Homo sapiens: one gene and its partners. The protein of the gene in region 1 purifies or fractionates together with the protein of each later gene. This does not show direct contact. Each region holds a gene or a part of one and is shown on either strand. Other genes may lie near its edges. The genes, in order: ODR4, LRRTM4, EVA1C, PLXDC2, SCARB2, CLCC1 and OSTM1.

Evidence for each region.
Region 2: the proteins of ODR4 (region 1) and LRRTM4 purify together in Homo sapiens (co-immunoprecipitation; one large-scale study listed by IntAct). This does not show direct contact.
Region 3: the proteins of ODR4 (region 1) and EVA1C purify together in Homo sapiens (co-immunoprecipitation; one large-scale study listed by IntAct). This does not show direct contact.
Region 4: the proteins of ODR4 (region 1) and PLXDC2 purify together in Homo sapiens (co-immunoprecipitation; one large-scale study listed by IntAct). This does not show direct contact.
Region 5: the proteins of ODR4 (region 1) and SCARB2 purify together in Homo sapiens (co-immunoprecipitation; one large-scale study listed by IntAct). This does not show direct contact.
Region 6: the proteins of ODR4 (region 1) and CLCC1 purify together in Homo sapiens (co-immunoprecipitation; one large-scale study listed by IntAct). This does not show direct contact.
Region 7: the proteins of ODR4 (region 1) and OSTM1 purify together in Homo sapiens (co-immunoprecipitation; one large-scale study listed by IntAct). This does not show direct contact.

Annotation. Positions count from the first base shown.
Region 1 is NC_000001.11:186,396,338-186,399,837, forward strand, and holds part of ODR4 (protein odr-4 homolog), read left to right. Parts: intron 1-1,961; coding exon of another isoform or gene 1,962-1,975; coding exon 1,976-2,104; intron 2,105-2,616; coding exon 2,617-2,707; intron 2,708-3,500. UniProt on the Homo sapiens protein: May play a role in the trafficking of a subset of G-protein coupled receptors.
Region 2 is NC_000002.12:77,519,577-77,523,643, reverse strand, and holds the start of LRRTM4 (leucine-rich repeat transmembrane neuronal protein 4 isoform a precursor), read left to right. Parts: upstream 1-1,267; 5' UTR 1,268-1,528; coding exon of another isoform or gene 1,529-1,535; intron 1,536-1,825; 5' UTR 1,826-1,972; coding exon 1,973-1,976; intron 1,977-3,779; coding exon 3,780-4,067. UniProt on the Homo sapiens protein: May play a role in the development and maintenance of the vertebrate nervous system. Exhibits strong synaptogenic activity, restricted to excitatory presynaptic differentiation.
Region 3 is NC_000021.9:32,454,206-32,457,705, reverse strand, and holds part of EVA1C (protein eva-1 homolog C isoform 1 precursor), read right to left. Parts: exon of another isoform or gene 117-3,500; intron 110-116; coding exon 1-109. UniProt on the Homo sapiens protein: Binds heparin.
Region 4 is NC_000010.11:20,211,432-20,214,931, forward strand, and holds part of PLXDC2 (plexin domain-containing protein 2 isoform 1 precursor), read left to right. Parts: intron 1-237; coding exon 238-298; intron 299-3,500. UniProt on the Homo sapiens protein: May play a role in tumor angiogenesis.
Region 5 is NC_000004.12:76,172,325-76,175,824, reverse strand, and holds part of SCARB2 (lysosome membrane protein 2), read left to right. Parts: coding exon 1-34; intron 35-1,511; coding exon 1,512-1,681; intron 1,682-3,500.
Region 6 is NC_000001.11:108,935,985-108,939,484, forward strand, and holds part of CLCC1 (chloride channel CLIC-like protein 1 isoform 1 precursor), read right to left. Parts: intron 2,325-3,500; exon of another isoform or gene 2,182-2,324; intron 1,435-2,181; coding exon 1,093-1,434; intron 1-1,092. UniProt on the Homo sapiens protein: Anion-selective channel with Ca(2+)-dependent and voltage-independent gating. Permeable to small monovalent anions with selectivity for bromide > chloride > nitrate > fluoride.
Region 7 is NC_000006.12:108,040,909-108,043,741, reverse strand, and holds the end of OSTM1 (osteopetrosis-associated transmembrane protein 1 precursor), read left to right. Parts: 3' UTR 1-2,333; downstream 2,334-2,833. UniProt on the Homo sapiens protein: Required for osteoclast and melanocyte maturation and function.

The DNA of each region.
Region 1 (3,500 bases):
GTAGCTCATGCCTGTAATCCCAGCACTTTGGGAGGCCTAGGCAGGGTGATCGCTTGAGCCTAGGAGTTCAAGATGAGTCTGAGCAACAAGTGAAACCCTGTCTCTACAAAAAAATACAAAAATTAGCTGGGGGTGATGGTGTGTGCCTGTAGTCCCAGCTACTTGGGAGGCGAAGGTGGGAGGATCGATTGAGCCTAGGAGCTTGAGGCTGCAGTGAGCTCTGATAGCATCACTGTACTCTAGGCTGGATGACAGAACAAGACCCTGCCTCAAACAAAACAAAATAAAACTAACCAACCAACCAAAAAAATACCTCTTTTCTTTAATATGTGTGTGTATAGTCTTTAATAGTCTAGTCTGTTTTGGATAACAATGCCATAATTATAGATAGATAGATAGATAGATAGATAGATAGATAGATATATGTATATACACACATACACATATATTTACATATACTAATATATAAATGTGTTATATGTTAAAAATATATAAATTATATGTTAAATATGTAAAATAGGACATTCTTTTTAGAGTAGTTTTGTCTACAATAAAAAGTTATGGAGTAGATAGGGGAAGCCTGTTACTCCTCCTCCAACCCCACCTTATTGATGTATCAATGAACTCTACATGTGTCATATGGAAGCTTATTCCAGACATTGTATCAGCATCGTCACACTGCTGCTTGGTTTGATGATAGCCATTTTTGAATGGACCCAGGACCTTTGGAGCTGTGTGGTCTGTGGCAAATTTTTTGTCAACAAGTCCTTGACCATCTTAAAGTTTAAATTGTTTAACAACACCTAGAAGATTTACATTGCCTTAGACATTGCTTGAATTACACTAGACATCAATAATGCTCTTTCAATAGCTATGCATGTCAGTATTCTCCTCTTCATTATTTTTCCGCATTTATTCCTGATTGCATAAGCACATAGGCACAAAGCACTTTTCACAAGTTGTATGATTTGACTTTTGTTCTTCAGAATTGATTTGGTTGTTGAATGACTTATACTCCAAGTGTTCTTAGAACATAAATTACTTCCTTACCATTTCCATTTTTTGGTTATTTTTTGTAAATCATTATTTTTTGTTTCCACTGTTATTATAGGCCTCTATTACAGGTTGAGTGTGCCTTATTTGAAATGCTTAGGACCAGAAGTGTTTTGGGTTTGGGATTTTTTTTAGATTTTGTAATATTTGCAGAATACATACCAGTTGAGCATCTCTAAGCCAAAAATCTAAAATCTTATATGCTCCAATTACCTTTTCCTTTGAACATCACATTGGTGCTCAATAAGTTTTGGATTTTGGAGCATTCAGGATTTTTAGATTAGGGATGCTCAACCTGTAGTACTTTAACTATTTTGATACTGTCCTTGTTTTTGGCACTTATTAAGATGATGGGGTTGAAAATATATGTGAAACACCTGAAAACCGAACAAGAGCACTGGCATTCCTTAGACTAAAGAGGATGGGACTAGTCTATGAAAGTTTTTGGTTGAAAGTGTGTAAATATATGTGTCTGTGCATTGCTTGTAGTTTTACCATAGTTATCACATCCCACTTTGTATTTGTTATTGTGAACTTATTTTGCATTGCACAACTTATATCTAGTACATCATATCTTCTTTGTATATCTTTTAATCATCACAGTACTGATGTGAATAATTTGCAAATAATATATTTTTAGGAGCATATCGAGTGAATATTGAACCATTTTAGATGGTTATGTTAGAAAAATTTAGATGTAGTTGTGTTTAATTTCATTATATCTTCAAAATGACTGGAAAATAATATATAACTTATAAAAACAAATATGAAGGCCTTTAAATAATTTGCAGAGAATAATTTCAAATGCTTGGCTCAGTCAAAACTTTGTTCTCTCTTCATAAAATCGCTAATATAATGTTTAAATATTTCCTGTAGTTAATCATTGTTGGTTATTAGAACTTAAACAGATTTTGTCTTTCAGCTCCTGAATTCAGACCACAGATCCACAGCCACAGTCCAGATATGTAGCGGTTCTGTAAACCTTAAGGGTGCTGTGAAATGCAGAGCTTATATCCACAGCAGTAAACCCAAAGTTAAAGATGCTGTGCAGGTACAAAAAGGAATAACGAGCATATGGAACCATGTTAACTATTAACAAAAACCTAAAATTTTACCATTTTTTAATCTTATATTTTGTAATTATTAATTCGATTTTAACTGATAATGGCCTATTGTGCAGTCCAAATGTACCATATAATTGGTGTGAAGATTTTCATATGTAGAGTATCTATTTTGTGCCTTTTTAAAAATGATGGCTATACAAGTTTAGTAAGTGTTCCACTGTTATACATATTAGTATCTAATTTGGAACACTGCAATTATTTTTTTAGATGTGAAATTTTATTCATTTATCTGTTTTTAACTATTTAGATAAATTTATCATTAAACTATAAATTTGTTAATAAGTGTGCTAAATAAGTGGAAATAAAACATTGAATGATGTATCAGTTATTTAGTGGGCATGATTGTACTGGAAAGCAAATTATTTTTTTTGTTAGTTAAATATTGTAAATCTAAAGTATTTTATTTCTTACTGTGTTTTTTGTGTGTTTTTCCCTGTAGGCAGTAAAGAGGGATATATTGAACACAGTTGCTGATCGTTGTGAAATGCTATTTGAGGATCTGCTTTTGAATGAAATTCCAGAAAAAAAAGTTATGAGTATAAAATAAGTACTTTTTTGCGTATCTTCAACTGATATAGTAATAAGATATCAAGATATAGCAGATACGTCATCTTTTATAGCTACCTATCTATATTTTCAAGCAGTATATCATCTTTTATTATTGGATGAAAATTTTTCAGTTGCTACTCAGATTTTTTTTTTTTTTTTTAGACAGAGTCTCACTGTGTTGCCCAGGCTGGGGTGCAGTGGCACAGTCATGGCTCACCTGCAGCCTCAGCCTCTTGGGCTCAAGCAGTCCTCCTACCTCAGCCTCCCTAGTAGGTGGGCCTGCAGGCACATGCCATGATGCCTTGCTAATTTTTGGTATTGTTTTTTTAGAGACAGGGTTTTGCCATGTTGCCCAGGCTAGTTTCAAACTCCTGAACTCAAGTGATCCACTGTCTTTGGCTTCCCGAAGTGCTGGGATTACAGGTGTGAGCCACCATGCTTGGCTCTAGAAAAACGTTTTAGAACACTATCAAATTTAGCAAATTTGTCAACAATTAAGAATTTCAGGGAGGATTTTTAAAAAAATTAATTCCAAGTGAACTTCTCCTGCCAGAATGAGTAAACTTTGTTAACATTTTAAAGTTAGTATTTTTTGTTGATATCTATGAGTATTTTAAATAATTTAGCCATAATCAAAATATTATTAGTGTTAAATACTATATAATAGCTCCTTTAGTAGGTACTATTTATATAAACTACACTAGTTTATATGCTTCTCAGCTATTACTCTAACAGACTTCATTACGTTTAAAAAAGGCTGAGTTACAGTATCTT
Region 2 (4,067 bases), on another chromosome or scaffold:
GGGGGACATATTATTCCTTTCTGTTCCTCAAGAAATCTTAGTAATGAGACAATTGCCTGCAACTGCCTACTCATACATCTGAGTCAAATTATATGTGTTATTTATATGATAAGCCCCCTTAATTATTAATATTTTGGCAAACAATCTAAAACCAAGGCTCTTTCTAAAAATATCTATTTGCGATGATCCACAGCAATTCTAAATGCTTATGTGAAATTCATTTAAATTTCTCACGTCTGCTAAATTAGGTTAGCAGTCTTACCTAGCAGTCTCTCCCTGCATTACATTGATTCATTCTCCTGGATTATTCTAAAAATTGTTATCTGCCAGAGGATTATGGAATAAACTAGTAAAAATGAGGAAAAAATGGAGGTGATGCACTATGTTTTTCAACGTCTGTCCAAGCTTAAAGAAAGTGTGTAGGTCCTTTTAAATTATATATATATCAGGTGTTTTATCATGTCATCCCTTCTAATTCTGAGGATATTCTGCACATTTTAGAGTAATACCATGATAATGCAGAACTCAAGTGCTTTTGTTTTTCTGGAATTGCACATTACAATAAGTGATTTGCATAAGAAATGATTTGCATTCTAAATGTAGATGATTTAAGGATAATGGCTGCACTAAGAATGTCAAGCTAGAATTCTACTCTTATCTCTTAGTTACCTTCACATTTGGTAATATACTATAGATTATAACTGCTTTAAGACTAAAAATGTAAACTTTTAGAAAGTAGTGTTCTAGACTGTTCAATAAAATGCACAAAATTGTAAAATGCATTTTATGTCAAAGGTTGAGAATTTGAAAATCAGACTTAAACATGTTAAATGTAACCTGTTTAAAATTGATTAAAATTGCATTTTTCCCTTGAATAAGATTTCTTCCATAAGCGGTTAGTTTAAAACAATATAAATAAATAAAACAAACCAACAGCAACAGTGAATAAAACTTAAATTTCAACAATTTCTGTCATTTGCAAAAGATGATAAATCTCCAGTGACGTGCAGAAAAAACAAATTTCAGGTCATGGCAACTTTGAAAAACTATTAATTGCATAACATTTAGAGAAGCAGTATTTTACTTAATATTTGCTATAACTGAAAGGAACTCCTTGGCATAAACCTTTTAAATTATTGGAGAGAAAAAAATAGTGATTCTGTGCCTTTAATTTCCCTTTCTGAGCAAGGGAAGGCTGCACACCACTGACAGGCTCACTTGTTCCCGTCTTTAATGTGCAATCTGTTTTCTCCAGCGGAGGGCACTCAGTGTATCACAAACTCAAGCATTAGCACCAACAAGCTCTGAGCATCATCAGTCTCTGGAAAGCCTTCTGAATTAGACAAGGGCTGCCTCCCAGCACAGCTACAAAACACTTTAAACCTGACCAGCTAAATGGATAAACCTAGCCTGCATAGCTTTTAAACTGGGGTCTCATACAGCACAGGAGGCCTACTTGCTTCAAGAACTGAAAATCCAGAGGATGAATTGCTTTATCTGGGAATGGCAAAAGCCAGCACAATAAGGAATGCCAGGTATTCTGAAGATTTTCTTTTTTTCCTCTCTTTTTACAGAGAAGTTGGTTACCTCCGAGATGGGCTGTAGCTCTTTTGCACAGATTGCCAATTACTGCTGATGGGTCTCTGGTGAATTACACAATGGTCCTCAGAGCCTAGAGGCCCTCCCCCATCCCTATCCCCCCAACGGCTTCCTTTTCCCTGCCCCCACAACCATCCCACCCTGTGCTGATTTTTTATATATATATATATATGTATATATATATATGTATTTTTTTTTTTTTTTTTTGCCTGTCCTCTCGGGGAAGTTTGTATGGGGCTACTAGCTCACATGCGGGATCAGAATGGTGTGAATGACAGCCGCACTGTGTCATGAAGGTGGTGGTGGTTTCCGCACAAGAGACCAAATAAGAAGAAAGCTGAGAGAGGGGGGAAACGTTTTTGGATGACAAAGGATGGGTAAGTGAACTTTTGTTGTTTCCTTCTGAGCAAAGCTGATCCTCTTGGCTTCCTATCCTCAGTCGTGGCATTAGCAGATAAAAGACGGGGAAACAGGCAAAGAGCAGCAGCCTTTGAGTTTGCCAGTTGATTCACTATAGTTGCTATTATATTTTTAGATCATTTTCCTTTTTGCAGTGTTTTTTTTTTAATCTATAAATGCACAACACGAACTTAAACAGACTCTAGAGAAATATCTTTAAGACTGTTTCTACTGTCTGCGTATCCACAGCTTGGGAATTCAGAAGGAGATAAATACTGTGTTTGCTTCTATTTCTTGATAATATTAACGAGGCTTGTGTTTCTGGTAGCTGTCAGGATGACTATTAACACTTTGCTGCGTGTATGTAGGGGTGGGGTCCTTACTTTATCAGAGGTTGCACAAGGGCTTGTTTTATCTTTGAAGCTGGATCCTGAACACAGCTTCCGAATTTCCAGCAGTCATTTGCCAGTCTTATTTTTTCGAGTGTGACTGGCTTTTTTCCCCCCCTTTCTCCTGTCTGGGAGAGCTGGAATGTATTTCAATGAGTCTGTAGCTGGCAAGAGGACAGAGAGCAAGATCGGGTTTTAAATTAAAAAGAAAAAAAAGAAAAACTTAACTGTTTGAGAAGAAGGATGGGTTTTAGATTAGGGATTTGGTTGATTGCCTCTTGGTTAAAAATTTAAAAATTTAAGAAAAAAAAAGAAACTGCAACACATGGTAGTTGTTTCTTTTTTTTTCTCTCCATTAAGAAATAATAAATCTACTGTTGACGGAGGAAAGAAGTCCCTTAACATGCAATGACTTGGAAATGCAGTGTAAGTGCCAATAGATTGTAACTTTGCAGGCTTTCTGAAGTTAATGGAGATAGGGGAGAAAAAAGTCAGTGAGAAATGTGAAGAGATCAGGGTGATGTAGAGAAAAATAGTAGTTGGCTGCTTCTTTCCTTGTTTATCCTTCGAATTTGCAAAAACAACTCTAAAATAATGGCAAAGTGATACTACACAATATTATTTTGCTTTTTAGGCAAATAATACGAATTTTGATAGTCTTAACTTTGGAGTGTTCTCTGTTATGAGTATTTAGATGTCTTAGCTCCTGTATCGTTGGGCAGGGAGCCACAGTATGCAATAATCTATGCTTATTAACAACTTGAGAGCACCTCGTACCGTTATTAGTCTTCATCCAATGCTTCATTGGCTGCCTATACTAGTCTCAATGCTGTTTTTTCAGAGCTCACATATTGCGATCCTATTATGCAATAAGTACACAATTTCAGGCAGGGCAAACTTGGGTTACCTTGACAGCTTACTGAAGCTCTTTTGCCAAATCACAGCCTGTTTGCTCAACTGGGAAACACGTACAGGTACCAGGTTTACTAAGTCACATTTTTGCCCTTACCAGAGCACATAGTACACTTCCTTTTGGTACTGTTGTTCAATACAGTGGTTAGCCAAATATTATTGTTACTAAAATGTCAGCATTCAGTGGTGAGAAAGGCTCTGTGCTTTTCAATGTTGAAATAAGTAGGAACTCCTGAAACTCAAAAAGGCTTTTCTTAATTCTATGGGACTGTGGTGATTTGAAGATCAAGGAAGAAAAAGTGAAACCTAAGCAGCAAACATGCAACACTGAAGAAAATAATGCTCGAAATGTTAATGCATTTTCCTTAAATCAACTGTCCCATTCCTACACTAGAGGAAATGCCCCTGTTGTTGGTAAACCGACGGTGATTTATTTTAATAGCTTCACAATGTGCATCTGTCTTTTTTTTAATATCGTAGGTTTCCATTTAATTACGCAGCTGAAAGGCATGAGTGTGGTGCTGGTGCTACTTCCTACACTGCTGCTTGTTATGCTCACGGGTGCTCAGAGAGCTTGCCCAAAGAACTGCAGATGTGATGGCAAAATTGTGTACTGTGAGTCTCATGCTTTCGCAGATATCCCTGAGAACATTTCTGGAGGGTCACAAGGCTTATCATTAAGGTTCAACAGCATTCAGAAGCTCAAATCCAATCAGTTTGCCGGCCTTAACCAGCTTATATGGCTTTATCTTGACCATAATTACATTA
Region 3 (3,500 bases), on another chromosome or scaffold:
AGGAGACCAGGAGGTATTTACTGCTTCCTGGACAAAGGTCAGGTCCAAAAACACGGCTATTGACCAGGAGGTGGCAGGCCCGCTGGTTCTGGCATTCGTCCAGCACCTTCTAGAAGGAGAGGGTAGAAAAGGGACAGGCTTGAAAACTGCTCACAGTGACTGCCAGACCCGAACCTGGGCTGCTCTGGGCTCTGCAAAGGGAAGGACGCCTCCCCACCTGGCCAAGCTGTGTCTAAGGCCAAAGAGCATAGACGTGGGTGATTGGGTTAGCTCCCTGTCTCCCTGCTCTTTCTCCTGAAAAGAAACCTGATCCAATAGTGCCAGGCTCCTGGGAAAACTAACCTCTGATCCACCACTACTGGTGCGGCGGCTGCTACTTTCAGCAAAGGCACTGAGTGCCGAGGCTCCAGGGGGTGCAAGCGAGGTCAGAGGACTTTCAGATATTGGGGTGCAGGGTACTTCAGGGTCCCCTTCGAGCGGGGTCCCCTAGCTTTAAGCTGAGAGAGCTGTGACCATCAGGATTCACAGTCCTGGCCTTTCATCCTTAAATAGCCCCACACAGGACACAGGAGAGCTGTGCATCGGGGAGCTCTTGGGGACCCAAACCCTTTCCAGCTTACGAACCATCCACAGGCCAAAAAATAAAAATTACAAAGCTGATTCCCACCCTCATCAAACTCAAGAGGATGGGACCCACTTCTCCCTCGGGGAGCAGTTTTCTTAGTGGAACACTCAGACTTTCTGTTGAGCATTGGCAGTAAAGGCTTTCCTGCAAATCTCAATCTCTCTCTCTCTCCTGATTTTTTCCAGACAGCTCCTTCGTTTTTAAGGCATCTGCTCTGTGGAAGCTCACAGAACACCCTCCTCCAGGTCCTGGGAAGGCTCAGCTTTTTGCTGCTGTTCTCTAGGTCCTCGTTCCCAAATGGAACAAGTCCTGCTTGTGATAAACACAGAGGTCCTGAACTTGGGTCTGGTTAAAACAAAAACAAAAAGGACATCAAGTACAGTTAAAAAAAAAGTTCCCAAGAATCTGCTTATTACTTTAGGTCTGAATTTAGTGCAGACACGTGAGCCTCTCTGAGTCACCATGTTCTCATAGTAGCTCGTGGAATAGCTCCGTGAAGAATGCTGGCCCCGCCAGGTATCCCCCATTCTCTCAGGGGCCCAGCAGATGTGTCTCAATCAGGAAAAAATACCCAAGAAACCCCTCAGACCCCAGAAGGTGCAGCTTTCAGATGACTGCATGTGGCATGGCCAAAGGTCATGGTGAAATGACTTGGCCCACAGATGTCACCGGAGGGCTCCACTGTTACAACCACAGAGCAGACCCCAGGGCAGGGCTATTTCCAAACTATGTCATGAGCTGGAAAATGCAGAGAGGGGGACTTGCTGCTGACAGTCAAGGGATGGATCAGCTGTGGTCTCCTGTGTGGATGTCTCCCCATGTTAAGCAACCTCCCTCTGAGGAAGCACCTTGCCTGTGCTCCGAGTGCAGCTTAAAAGACACAAAAGAAGGCTGGGCGCGGTGGCTCACACCTGTAATCCCAGCATTTTGGGGGGCCGAAGCGGGCAGATCACCTGAGGTCAGGAGTTCAAGACCAGCCTGACTAACACAGTGAAACCCTGTCTCTACTAAAAGTACAAAAATTAGCAGGCGTGGTGGTGGGCACCTGTGATCCCAGCTACTCGGGAGGCTGAGGCAGGAGAATTGCTTGAACCTGGGAGGCAGAGGTTGTGGTAAGCCGAGATTGCGCCATTGCACTCCAGCCTGGGCAACAAGAGTGAAACTCCGTCTCAAACAAACAAACAAAAAAGACACAAAAGTAAAGGACTTCTTGACCTCTGGTTGAAAGAGTAGCGCATGGGGATGTTTCTGGCAAACAAACCCTCCCAACAACGTCAGAACTGTGTTCACAAATGCTAACCTGTCGGCCTGGTTATAGAACATCCTCTTCCCTCAGGGGTATCTGGCAGAGGCAGGTACCCGTGGAATGGTGCAGGTGGTGCCCATGCTCTAGTGTATGCCAAGAGTTCCTACTTTTACAAAGTAGCCACTTTAAAAAAATGTTGGTACTGGCCAACATTCCTTTCATGCACCCAGGAGGGCAGCAGGTAGCCTGGGATCCAAGGATGGATGGCCAGGGCAGGTGGCTGAGAAATGGGGGTGGGTCAAGAGGGATGTAGCTCCTGGGGTGGCGCCCAACAGAGAGAGTTAGGGGTAGGGTGGGTGCTATGGCTGGAATGTTTATCCCCCCCAAAACTCACATTGAAATGTAATTGCTGCTTTAACAGTAACAGTGTTAACAGGTGGAGTCTTTAAGAGGTGATTAGACCATCAGGTCTTCACCCTTATGAATGGATTAATACTGTTTTTGTTTGTTTGTTTGTTTTTTGTTTTTTTTCAGGAGTAGGTTGTTAGAGTGGCACTAGGCTTGTTATAAAAGGCAAGTTGGCCCTCTCTCCTTCTCTTGCCCCTTCCATTCTTCTGCCACATGAGTACCAGCGTTCTCCAACCCCCTAGAGGATGTAGTGTTCAAGGAGCCATCCTGGAAGTAGAGACACCAAACCTATGGCGCCTTGCTCTTGGACTTCCTGACCTTCAGAACAGTGAGAAATCAATCTCAGGTCCTTATGAATTACCCAGGCTCAGGTACACTGTTATAGCAGCACAAAAAGGACTAAGACAGTGGAGCACACAGGGAAAGCAACTTCTTGTCTCCTGAAGAAACATGTTGTCTCTCCTCAAGGTATAGAAACCATGTCATGGGGAGTCATTCAGACACATTCATTTTGGCTACTCAATTGGTGTGTTTCACCAATCACCTAAATACCCAGATACTACCATGCTTGGAGTGGAAGCAAGGGATGGTGTGAGAAATAGAAAAATTCTTACATCATCACATTAGTTTGCGTCTCCTGTTTGGGCCTTAGGGAGAGCTACACAGCATTAAAGCTACTCTTATTTCTCCTTAGTTCTAGCAAATGTATCTTTATCCATATTTCCTACGGTCGACAAAATCAAACAGACTTCCAACTTTCCACCTGCTCTAAACTCCCTGCTTTAAATGTATTCATATGGAACTTGGGAGGCATAAAAAAAAAAATCCAAGGCCAAGTGACTCAGTAATCCTGGTCAACTAGTTATATATGTTAGGGGCCAGGGATGGTGAAGTAGAAGTTGCTCAGATGATTGAAAGCCATGCACAGTCTAAAACCATCATTGAAATATTAGTTTGACCTTCTCCTATACCAAATCTTTCCCTAAATATGCCAACCACAAAAAGAATGACTTAAACCACACCTCTCCCAATTCCTGGTACTATGTAGTAGAAGGAAGGAGTCAGTAAAGGCTGCCTAAAATAGCTCCAAGCAAGAATGACATGATTATCTACAACTGAAGAAGCAAATCATTAAAAAGCACAAGGCAGTTACTGATATTACTGATATTTCCTTCCTTGAATACATTTTCTTTTTTTTGAGATGGAGTCTCGCTCTGTTGC
Region 4 (3,500 bases), on another chromosome or scaffold:
AGTGATTTGGTTGCCATGTGCGATCCTAACAGTGACATCCTAAGGAATGAGTGATTATTTAGCAACCCTCTAAATATTTCCCTGCTTCTCCAGTTGCGAGTTCTATAGAAGAGTTAATGTTATGCTAAACTGAAAATGTGAGAATGAACTACCTACTAATCTTTTACTTTTAATTTCTGTCCACCACCCTGCACCCTATCCTTCCTTTTCTGAACTGCATTGTGGTCTTCTTTGAAGATGTTCCAGTGGATTTGATCGTCATCGGCAGGACTGGGTGGACAGTGGATGCCCTGAAGAGGTACACATGCTTTATTGTGACAGAATCCTGGGACCAAGCTGTCATATACATGTGTTTTAACTGTTAATAATTTTTATTCAAAATTTATGCCCTAAAACTTAATGAAAGGAGAAGAATCCTTCTATAAGCCCAATGTCTGCAAATATTAGGGGTTCGATAACAGCTGGCTATTTTTGTTAAATTAGATAACATTTTCATTACATTGTAGCAACTTGCTACAACCCCTAATAGATGCAGACATGGGGCTTAACTATTTATATGTATTATCTCATTTCATTGTCATATTCATTCTATGAAGAACAGTGCCTGCACTGTCACTACCCCCATATTACCAAGGAGAGAAAGGGGAGGAGTGAGGGGAGCTTGTGGGGAGGGGTGAAGTGTGGGTTCTTGGAGAGTCAGGTAAATGGCTAGGGAATAGTAGGGCCAGGATTGGAATCTGTAGAGGAGTTCTCTTAAATGCTTGCTATTTTTCTAGGATGTACGAAACCATTGTTCCTCTTTGTAATTCAAACAGCAAGACCAGTGGTATTGTGGAGGGTGGAAGACTGCAGCAAATTGATGTGCTGTAATAAATGAGAAATTGTATAACATTAGTTGGCATAGAGAGATGGTATAATGTTAACTCTGAGGGAAACATGATAGAGACAAGGATGCAGTGAAGTCGTGTAAGCAATTGGATACCAGAAACAATTTTAACCCGTTTAAAAGCTTTGCAGTGACTCGCATTTATACTATCATTTCAAGATCATATAAAGATATCCTATAAAGTTTATGAAGAAAAGCATTTACTTCTTCTCCCTTCATTAAGTTTTGGGGTATCAATTTTGAATTAAAACTGCTAACAATTACAAAAGTTTAGCAAAGCAAGCCATGCCAAAATGCTGTTTTAAAAACTATTTGTTCAATGGTTACTTAGAGACTTTTTAAAAATTCATTTTTGGGGGGCATGTTTCATAAAGATCTTGAGCAATACATTTTTAAAAACATTCTTGAACTTTAAATGCAGTATTGCCAGTGTAGCTATAACCAACCTTTTGGCATTTCATTTAGGGAATGACAGCAGTGTGTGCTCATCCGTCTCACCTCACTTATCTAATAACGTAGTTCCAAAGAGTATCTATTGACAAAGCCATAGTTGTGTTTTGAGACAATCATTTCTTTCATATAATCAGTTACCTCAATATAAAATGTTGAAAATGAATATCTCCATATATGTAAAGATTGAGAATGTAATTCAGATGTATATTTTTTCTCCCAAATTTGGTTTATCTTTTCATTTTCTCTATGATTTTATTTCACTAACATTAATTATCAATTTAATCTGTCAAATGTATGAATCTTTTATTTTTATGATGAGTTTTATATGCCTGTGCATCTTCTTTTAGAAGAATTTTCCTACCAAATTCCATCTAGGTGTTATTTTTGTGTATTTTTTTCTGAATATTTTAAAGCTTTGTCTTACACGTCAAAATCTATTCCATTTGGAATTGGTTTTTATGTATTATATAAGGTAGAGATTCAGTTTCGTGGGGTTTTTTTTCTTGATGGATAGCCAAATTTCAAGCACCATTTGTTAACTAATCCTTTCTTTTGGCAATATCTTGCAAAGTCACCTGTTTTATGTATATTTTCTGGGCTCTCCTCTTCTAAAGCTCTGTCAGTACTTAGATCAGTGTCCCACTGTATTAATTTCTATTGTTTTATAAGAAATCTTACTATATACAGGACAAATCTCCTTACTTTTTCTTCTTCACAAGTGTTTGGGTATTTTAGGGCTTTTGTCCTTCATATAAATATTAAACTCACCTTGTCGAGATCTGTAATCCATCTATCAATACATCTTACTAACATTTTATTGGAAATACATTAAATTATGAATTAGATCACATTTCCTAATTACAGAGGCTTTTAAAATTTACCTTTTTTACTATTGACTTCTAGACTAATTGAGTCATCATCAGAGAACATGTTATGATCTTTAAAGTTGATTGGAAATTTTTCATGAACAAGTACATGGGCATTTTGTACAAAGGGTCTATGTGTGTTCAAGAAAAATGTGTGTTTTCCTGTTGGTTGGGTGTCAAGCTTGATAAATGTACTCTTCAGCTATACTTCTCCACTCTCTTTATTTTCACCTTCTGACTTCTTTGAAAGCTTGCCATTTTCATCTTTTCCTCATATTTTTAAACCTCTATTATATGTAATCTCTTTCCTTATTACTCTGTGCTGTATTTGGAGCAATTTCTTCAGATGTATTTACCGGTTTATTAACTCTCCCTTCATCTTGTTTAATATTCTATGTAATCTACTCACTGAAGTAGAAATTCCAACAAACATTTTTCATATCTAAAATTAAATTTGACACTTATTACATCTGCCAAGTATTTTATAGTTTCATGTGAACCGTTCATTTCTCAATTTTATCTTTTATGATTTTAAATATTCCGTGTATGATTTTTGTATATTCCATATTGGATGATCCCATTATCTAAAATTTTGGTGATCTAAATAGTGTGGTCATTGTTTTTGCTGATTCTTTCTCAGACAGCTATTTTTTTTTCTTTTTTAGTGTATATTTGTCTGATCCTATTCTAAGACCTAAATAGGTGATGTTTTCCCCCAAAGAAGATTTGATGATGGGATCCTCAGGATTTTCAGGCTACCATAAGTCTCTGCCCTAATGTGAGGAGGAGAAGTTCAGATTTTTCTCCCCTGTCTACTACTGCTGCAAGGCTTGTTCTCTTTAGAGCGATATTGATTTTGGATTTTTTTCCTCAGGGCAAATTCTGCTTTTTTAACTTCCCTTAATGTATACAGCTCCTACTGTCTTTATAGCACATAGCTTTTGCTTTGTTTTATTTTTTGAGTGGGGAGGGGAATAAACAATGGAAAGGCACCATTGGGATATTCTTTACCTCCTGCAAATCCTAAGGCTTTAAAATTCAAGTTTTATTCAGAATCTACTTGTTTTGTTATAGGAGGGCTATTTAGTTCCTTAGTCTGCCGTTACTGCCAAAAGCAATCTGAGCCTAGGATTTTACCTTAAACGTAGGGTGTTTACTGAACATTATTAGATCCTGTTTACGGAATACTAGGTCCTGTTCATTGACAGTAGAAACACAAAGAGAGAATAATATATGGCAAGTTCCATTCTATACTCCTTGAGTTTGAGATGTGTGTGACATTCACATGCAGACAC
Region 5 (3,500 bases), on another chromosome or scaffold:
AGGTCCTTTATGTCTTCCCATCTGACTTTTGCAGGTAAAAGCTTTAAAGATAAGTTCTTTTTCAAAAATAAGGTCTTTCACTGCAAGACCACCAAAAGCATGAGGAATATATGCAGACACACTTATTATGCATGGATATTTATGCATAATCAGTGATAAATGCTGATGGCACATCGAGACAGTATAGTGTACTGGTTCACAGCACAGACTTCTGACTGTTGGTTTGAATCTTGGCTCTACCACTTATAGCTGTGTGACCTTGGGCAAATTACTTAACCACTCTGTACCTCACTTTCCTTATTTGTAAAACAAAGATAGAAATTGTTAACTATGTTAGAGGTTGTTATGAGGACAAATGAGTTAGTATTAGTCAAATACTTAGCCCAGGGCCCATCACACAGTAACCAATATTAAGTGTTGGCTCTTAGTTACTATGATATGCTCTGTCAAGCATCAACTGACCTGGTCTACTTCCAGTCAATAGGTAGTCTCTACATGGAAGCCAAATAAAAGATACTGTTGTCCATATTTCAGCAGAGTGGTTTCCTCAGGGGAGGCAGAGAAGGAATGGAATCAAGAGCATTACGTAGACAGGTTCAGTTATATCCATAATATAATTTTTATTTGTCTAAGTGGCAGATACAAAGGTATTTGTTAGAGTATTTTATCTCTTTCTGGTGCCTAAAATTTTTCATTAAAAAATGCTGTAGGGGTGGTTTGGTTTGTGCAGTGAAACCACCTATGTTATTCACAACCTTGCGAGAGATGTATCAACAGCTCTGGTTCAGAGATGAAAAAGTGAGGCCCAGAAGGCTCTTCCGGCCAGCCTTCAAAGGAAGGGCTGAAGGCTCAGTGGTGACTGTGTACATCAAAGTGGTTAGGCACTATGCAGTGTAAGCAGTGGTCATATTACATGGGACTATGTTTGAAATCAGTAAGAATGAAAGGCAGAATTACGTTGAACTCCATTTAAATAAATGACTGGGGCAAAATATGGAATCTGATTTTTCTTGGAGGGGGGGATTGAGTATCAAAGTGTGTATTCCAATAAAGTATCTGTCCAATGTGACACTTTTCAAGTGCCTAAGACCCTACGAGGCCACGGCCATCGCTGCCTGTTCTACCTTAGCTTTGGCTCTGCCGTGCCCTGGCTTCCCTGGCTTTGCCGGTGGCCCGTCCACACTGGCATATGTCCATGCAGGTCTAGAGAGGCCTCTTATTTCTTTTTTATGTGAGTCTCCATTCTAAATGTTATCATCTTAATTTTGTACCACATATTGTTTTTTCTTGTTTGGATGATATCACCGTTGCTACAATAAACACCTTCCACTACAATTCATCTTCTGCTTTATTACACGTTGAGTTGACAGAATGCCTTCCAAACATTCCTTTCTACTTACCCTGTGAGCTTTTGGCCATGTTGTACCTGAGAACTGTTGCTAACTTGCGGATTTCGGGCAGATTACACTGACCAGAGTCCACATTCACTTTTTATTCTTACATCCTAACAGGTCAGTGTATATTACTTTCAGTGACTATGAGAGTGTACAGGGACTGCCTGCCTTTCGGTATAAAGTTCCTGCAGAAATATTAGCCAATACGTCAGACAATGCCGGCTTCTGTATACCTGAGGGAAACTGCCTGGGCTCAGGAGTTCTGAATGTCAGCATCTGCAAGAATGGTAAGAACTCAGAGAGGGGACATGATAGGGGTGTCAAGAATGCAGAAGGATTGGAGTTCAACAAAGAATATGTAGCTGGGCGTAGTGGCGCACACCTACAGTCCCAGCTACTAAGGATGCTGAGGTGGGATGATCACTTGAGCCCAGGAGTTCTCAAGTCCATCCTGGGCAACATGGCGAGACCACTGTCTCTAAAAAACAAAACAAACAAAAAAGAATATATTGTCAGCCCAATAGAAAGATCAGTTTCTTTCAAGAACAATGTTTCATAACATGGCTATTGAATGGTAAAAAAAAATCATGGCTTTTCTGTGATGCTTTTTATTTCTAGAATGCCATGTTGTGTTTTTTTTTCTGGACAGTGGTTTAGAAGTCTTAACAGTAATAATAGCTCATGTTTACTAAGCACCTGATGTATGCCAGTCACTGTCCTAAGTGCTTTACATATTTACATGTAGTTAATGCATGCAAAACATTAACTGATTTCATGTTCAAAACAATGCTAAGGCTGGGCACGGTGGCTCATGCTTGTATTCCCAGCACTTTGAGAGGCCGAGATGTGAGGATTGCTTGAGGCCAGGGGTTCAAGATCAGCCTGGGCAACATAGCAAGACCCTGTCTCTACAAAAAAAAAAAAATTAAAAAATTAGCTGGGTGTGGCGGCACACACCTGTAGTTACAGCTGCTCAGGAGGCTGAGGCAGAGAGATTGCTTGAACCCAGGAGTTCGAGGTTGCACTGTGCTATGATTGTGCTGCTGCACTCCAGCCTGGGCAATAGAGTGATTCCGCACCTCCCCACCAAAAAAAAAAAAAAGCTAAAAGAAAAAGTGGACAACTCAGTTTTAAGAAAGTACGTATCATGGCAAAGATTCTCAGTGATTTTGAAGCAGAGTTAGTTTTAAACCCTGACACAAATGTCCCAGTGTTTCTTAATGTCAGAGCTACTCTGCTCCTTTCCATGAATGAGGCAGAATTATCAGTGGCACAACTGACAAAACTATTTTCTTCATCTTGAAGAGTAGTTTTAACAGCCACATGTTGCAGAATTATTCACAATGAACTTACTAGATAGTAGACATTCAGCGGCCTGTTTTTATAATTGGGGAAACTAGGGCTCAGAGAGGGAACGTGATTTTGATGCGACTCCTCCCTCTGAGCAGATCCCTGGCGGAACTCAGGGTCTTCTCATATTTGCCCTGTGATTCCCTCTTGGGCTGTAATTCCTCTTTAAAATTTCTCTGGAGAGCTCTCTGTGTAGTCCCTTTCTCCTGAATAGTAATGTGCTCACTTTTGCTCCCTTATCTATCTCATTTTAAAATCTCCTTTCAGGCCTGGCATGGTGGCGTGTGCCTGTAGACCCAGCTACTCAGGAGGCTATGGTGGAAGGGTCGTTTGAGCCCAGTTTGATTCTAGCCTGGGCAACATAGCGAGACTCCATCTTTTAAAAAAGAAAAAAAAAAAAAGAATAAGATATCATTTTGGAATAAGTCTGAAGTCAGCAGTATACCTCCTGATCCTTGTCTGACAGGGCAGTGACCCCCACACCTGGCTTTACATCAGAATTATCTGGAGAGTTATTAAAAATATATTGGTGAGGCATGGTGGATCATGCCTGTAATCCTAACACTTTAGGAGGCTGAAGCAGGAGGCTCACTTGAGGCCAAGAATTTAGACCTGCATGGGCAACAGGGAGACCCCATCTGAACAAAAAATTTAAAAATTAGCTGGGCATAGTAGCATACACCTATAGTTCCAGATACCCAGGAGGCTGAGGCTGGAGCGTAGGAATTCAAGGCTGCAGTGAGCTATGATTGCAAC
Region 6 (3,500 bases), about 77 Mb from region 1:
CTGGCTTTCCCCTCAAGTGAGATAGGAAGTCACTGGAAGACTTCTGAGATAGGTGACAGGTAATTACTAACTATAAAAGCTGGAAGGACCATCTTAAGTTGTTTTTTTTTTTTTTTTTTTTTTTTTGAGACGACGTCTCACTCTGTCACCCAGGCTGGAGTGCAATGGCACGATCTCGGCTCACTGCAACCTCCGCCCCCTGGAATCAAGCAATTCTCCTGTCTCAGCCTCCCAAGTAGCTGGGATTACAGGTGCATACCACATCACGCCTGGCTAATTTTCTTGTATTTTCAGTAGAGATGGGGCTTTGCCACGTTGGCCAGGCTGGTCTTGAACTGCAGACCTCCAGTGATCCGCCTGCCTCGGCCTCCCAGTGCTGGGATCACAGGCGTGAGCCGCCGCGCCTGGTCCATCTTTCTAGATACATGTAGATATGTTTATTTTTATATGAAACTATGGGAAGGGATTCTATAATTTCCCAGATTCTATTATGCTCATAACTGTTTCAAAGGTTTAACAGCTGCAATTTAAACATTTCAAATGACAATACAAATTCCTCTCTCAAACAGAAATGGAAATGTCCCTTTAAAAGACTGATAATGGTGAAAAACTTCTTCTTACCATTCTACAGGTAAAAAGTATAGTCTAGCCAGCCAATGACACTGAAGATTTGGGGAAGCAATGTTTTTGATCCCTGGCCCCAGCCCACTCTTCCATCCAGCTAATCCTTTAGGGCTCTACTGTACCTTCCCTAGAGCTCCGGGCCTTCAGTGATGCCTTCTCTCTGATCTCTTCAAAGATAGAAATTTCTGTCATGCTCATACGCTGGCTTCCCATGAAGGTTCATATGAATTACCATCTGCTCTAACAAACTACTGTTAAATTGTATTTTACATAAAAGTTAAATCTAATTTTATTTCTTCTGAGGAAGCTGAACTAACTTTTGACCAGAAAGGGGAGAGAGTGAGTGGCTGTATCACTCATGATATAATTAAGGGTGAGGGGTAAAAGAGTAAAAACAATCAGACCTCTTCCAGAAGGATTTAGAACCAGTAATGAAGGGACAGCAGAATAAAAGAGTTGCTGACTTACACTGGGTACCACCGTGGGATGCTCTCGTGCCTCTGCGTCTGGTACATCAAATGCCCGGAGCACTTCAGGGCTCTTGTTGCCAGTCTGAAATCTCAAGTCAACATCTCTCTCTCTCAAAATCTCTCTTCTACCCTCATACGTTTTGGCATAAGGGCCTTGCTCAGTGGGGCCCATTTGGCCCCTATAATGGAAATCGGCATCACCTGCTCCACCATCAGGTCTATAATCAATTTCCTCCTGCCGTCTTCTATCCCGTGGCCGAAGTGCCTGGGGAGGTTCGCTCTCAGGACCGCCTATATGTCTCAGCACATGAACTGATTTTCCAGCACCATAGCAGAAACTCTGTAAGGAAAAGAAATACATTTTCCTGAGGACTCAATGGCTAACTTACAAAAGTTATGAGGCATTTTATTCAGAGTGCTAACAAAGTTATGTAATTTAACTTACTTGTGGCATTTATAGACATAAACATGTTAATTTGACTTTTTTTCATTAGAGACCTCTTTAGATTAATACAAGGCCAGAGTGGCCAATAAAACTTAATAAATCTTTCAGTAGACATTTTAATCAGCTAGACACATTTCGATTGAACTATAACAATGGCAGGCTGAAGCCTAGATATTTAAATTAGAAGGTTCTAGTCTGATAATTATTCATGTTTCTAGATTCATGCCCATCATATAAGGTAAATGCTGAAAATATTTAAAGTTGTATATCATTATGTAAACAATCTTCTGTACATTTTCTTTTTACAAATATAAACTAGGCTTAAGTTACAGCTAAAATTCAACAGGTTTTGATTCACATTCCATGGGAAAAAGTAGGCAGCAGTTCCTTACAGTGTGGCCCAGGGACCCCCGGGGGATACCTGAGACTTTCAGGAGATCTATGAGATCAAAACTTTTCATAATACAAAGACATTATTATTTGTCTTTTTCACTGTCCCCTCCTGAATATACAACGGAGCATTCCAGATGCTAGAGTGACAGCCTCACTCAGACTCAGGGGATGCATGCTTGCGTGTACAGTACTCGTATGTTTTAAATTTGTTTTAACTCCTAATATGTAAGTATCAATAAATATAATCACCTTAAGTAAGAGCTGTTTGTGGGCTTCAATTTTTAAGACTGCAAAGAGGTCCTGAGAACAGAAACTTTGAAAATTTCTGTACTAGTTTTTCAAACACTACTATTTGAAGACAAAAGCAGCAAAAGTCAAAGAGCATAACTTTCCTGAGGGAGCACATGAAACAAAAACAGATGGTGAAGACTCTGCTGATAATTTCAGTTTCAGAGACTAAACTATGACTATAGAACTAATGTCACCTAACAAAAAAATACCCGTCAACCACATAATCCTGTAATCACAAGCCAAAAAACAAAACCAAAAAAGAAACGATTTCAAAGTGAACAGAGATAGTGAATCTTGTATCCTTAGGGAAGAGAATTTCCCTTGGCACATCTGAGTTCTTTTTGTTTTATGCGACAACTGCTTTACTTGGGTAATAGCTAAAAAATCGATAACAAAAAACACTGAATAGACCATGGAGGGATGACGAGTAATATTTCTTCTTAATGTCTGCTCCTGGATCCCCAAACTCTTTCTCAGCATACCCATGTTCTTCCACATCCCTTTCTGGTTCTGTGTCAAACTCAATGCTCTACCCTTCTCACTGCTGCAAAAACTGACTAGAAATAAGAAGTCCCCCTTTCTGGGAGACAGAAATCAACTTCCTATTTCCTGTGTATTAATTTACCAAGGTTAACACATTTAAAAAGAGGTTATTATTCTAAATCACTGCTATGACATATGCAATCAAACTAGAGAACTACTTTCTTGATTATAAAAATATACAAGTAAGTATAATATGTCTGTATCATTTAGAGGGGCAGAGGGGAGGAAAAAAATCTGTATCACTTAAAAATCGCCTTCTCATTAAGCGTGACTTAGCCTGATTTACAACATCAAAGAAGCCCAATAATTTTAGCATTGCCTTTTTTTCTGTAAATCTTGCTAAATATTGACAGTGCTAATATTTAATACTAACCAGTATTACTAATATTAATACTAAGATTTAATATAAATCTTGCTAAATACTGACAGTGCATATATATATATAAATATAAATATATAATATATAAATATATATTATATATAATAAATATATAAATATAGACAGATATATAAATATAAATATATATAGATAGATATATAAATATACATATATGTATAATTTTTTTTTTTTTTTGAGACGGAATCTTGCTCTGTCGCCCAGGCTGGAGTACAGTGGTGCGATCTCGGCTCACTGCAAGCTCCGCCTCCCAGGTTCACCCCGTTCTCCTGCCTCAGCCTCCCGAGTAGCTGGGACTACAGGCGCCCGCCACCACGCCCGGCTAATTTTTTGTATT
Region 7 (2,833 bases), on another chromosome or scaffold:
ATTGTTTCTAAATTATTTCAATCAGATGAAAGTGATACGATTGAAATGAAATCACATAGTTCGTGCTCAGAAATTCTATTTTGGTATGTTTGTATTAGCCTTTAGAAAAAACACTCCGTTTCAGAATTGTTCACAGTTTTATTTCTTAGGTTTTTAGAGTTCAGGATTTCATTTATTAATTTCTTCTTGCTTTTTTGGTGGAAATAGGCTTTGTTGTAAACATTAAGAATATAAAATCTCCTCTATATAGAAACAAGAATTTTGTTAAAAAGAGAATTTGAATCCCTTCCTATACTATAAAATGCTCTATAGGGAGACAAAGTGTTTCTTTTTTCTTTTATGTTTACTGTTTATGTGGAGTGAAATATAAGGCTCTTGGATGTATAACATACTCAAAAGCTGTTACACTTTCTCTGATCTGCTGTGATCCACTGAAAATGTGCTGGGGTTTGTTCTGCTGTCACTGTTTATGCTGCTGGAACTTAGCACTGTCTTGATTTGAAGCATATGATTGAGAGCCATTTGAAGCAATCTTCATTAATGCAGATAAAACAAGTTTACATGTGCAGAGTTAGAAAATGACATGTTCAATTCTGTAAGTGGTGACTTTTTGAGCACCTTTCAGTATTATGTATTTGTAAAAACCATTGTTTTTGGATATAAAGCTAATAAGCACTTTAAAAAGGAAAAGGCAGCCTTTACTATTTTTTCTGGTTGAGTCATTGCTCTTTAGACCTAGCATCAGCAATAGATTTCAAAGATAAGTATTAAGCGCTACCCTAAAGTGTGTAAGTTTTTCATTTTGTCATATTGAAAAATGATTTGCATAGTACTGAATGTTGACACACAGCTTATATGTATTTACAAGAATATCTTTAAGTGTTTTTTTGACACATTAAAATAAAGGAAATAAGGAAATTGTAAGCTTTATTTGGATTTTTAAATACATTTTTAAAATTTCAGATGTAATTTAACATCACATTTGTTTTTCAGGTATTGAGTTTAGATGCCTACTTTTATGAGTACCATCAGCTGGACACAGTGTCTCATACCTGTATTTGCAGCACTTTGGGAGGCTGAAGCAGATCGCTGGAGCTTATGAGTTCGAGACCAGCCTGGACAACATAGTGAAACACTGTCTCTGCAAAAAATACAAAAATTAGCTGGGTATGGTGGTAAGTGCCTGTAGTCCTAGCTACTTGGGAGGCTGAGATGGGAGGATGTCTTGAGCCCGGGAGGTGGAGGTTGCAATGAGCCAAGATTGTACCACTGCATTCCAACCTGGGCGACAGAGCCAGACCTTGTCTCAAAAAAAAAAAAAAAAAAAGAAAAAAGAAAGTACTGTCTGTCTTAAATTTTGCTGCAAATAAAAATGTACTTTGGATTATTTATTGTTGAACTTGAGAGATAGAAATAACATCAGATATATTTTTTCTTTTTTTTTTATAATTAATTTTTTTTTTTTTTTTTTTTGTAGAGACAGTGTCTCACTATGTTGCCCAAGCTGGTCTTGAACTCCTGAGTTCAAGAGATCCTCCTGCCTTAGCCTCCCAAAGTGCTGGGATTACAAGCATAAGCACCACACCTGGCTGAACATCAGATATTTTAAAGTGTAGCCCAGAGTCTAGTTGGTAAATGTTACTTATATTGGGACTAGTATTTTCTAATGTTTCTGGGATATGCTCCCTATAAAATGAAATGTTTTCCTGGAACAATGCTAATTAGGATTGCATTCCTGGCCAAAGACATGACATCAAATAAGTAATAGACATCACCAGCAATGAATTTTGAAAAGCAAAAAATACTATTAACCTATATAACCATTTAAAATTTAAAAAATTATGTTCCAAGTACCTCTATTTTCTGAGCTAGAAGAAACCTTAGAGGCCATCTGATGATAGATTCCCAGAGCTGGATGGATCCCTAGGGACTACCTAATCTGACTTTCTGTCCACTGCATGGATTCTTCTAAAAAGTATGTCACTTATTTCCCTACCTTATTAAGACTAAATAAGTGGAACATCATAGAGCTCTTTATTTATAACAGTCATTCTTTGATAGTCAACTCTTAAATGGAGACTTGAGATGCTTAAATATTGTACTACTGTGCTTATCTTGTAAAGATTTCATAAAATGATAGTATTGGTTATTTTAAAAAGGCTTTGGCTTATGCTGAATTATACATGTAGCACCAAAATGTTACAACTCTACTAAATTTCCTTGTTCTAAACTATTATATTAGCTATAATAAATATTAGTCATACATGTAACATGTTTAATGACAAATAACTTTCTTTATCTCCTTGGAATTAAAGAGGGCTTTTAAAAGATAATTTGACTGATCCATGCTTCTTACAGTGTGGAGCTTTGCAATGATGATTTTTTAAATATGTTTTTCTTGTGATAAACAGGTATTTTTTAAAATCTGCTGGGTGTGGTGACTGGTACCTGTAATCCCAGCACTTTGGGAGGCTGAAGCGGGAGGATCACTTGAGCCCGTGAGTTTGACACCAGCCTGGGCAATATAGTGAGACCTTGTCTCTACAAGAAATTAAAAAACTAGCTGAGCATCATGGTGTGTACCTGTAGTCCCAGCTACTCAGGAGGCTGAGGTGGGAGGATCGCTTGAGTCTAGGAGGCAGAGGTTGCAGTGAGCCAAGATTGTGCCACTGTACTCCAGCCTGAGTGACAGAACAAGACCCTGTCTCAAAAAAAAAAAAAAAAAATCCATCTCAGTACCCCAATGCAATCAAAAGATTTCAGAGCTTTAAAATGAATGATGCTGGGTGCAGTGACTCCTGCCTGTAATCCCAACACTTTGGGAGGCTGAGGC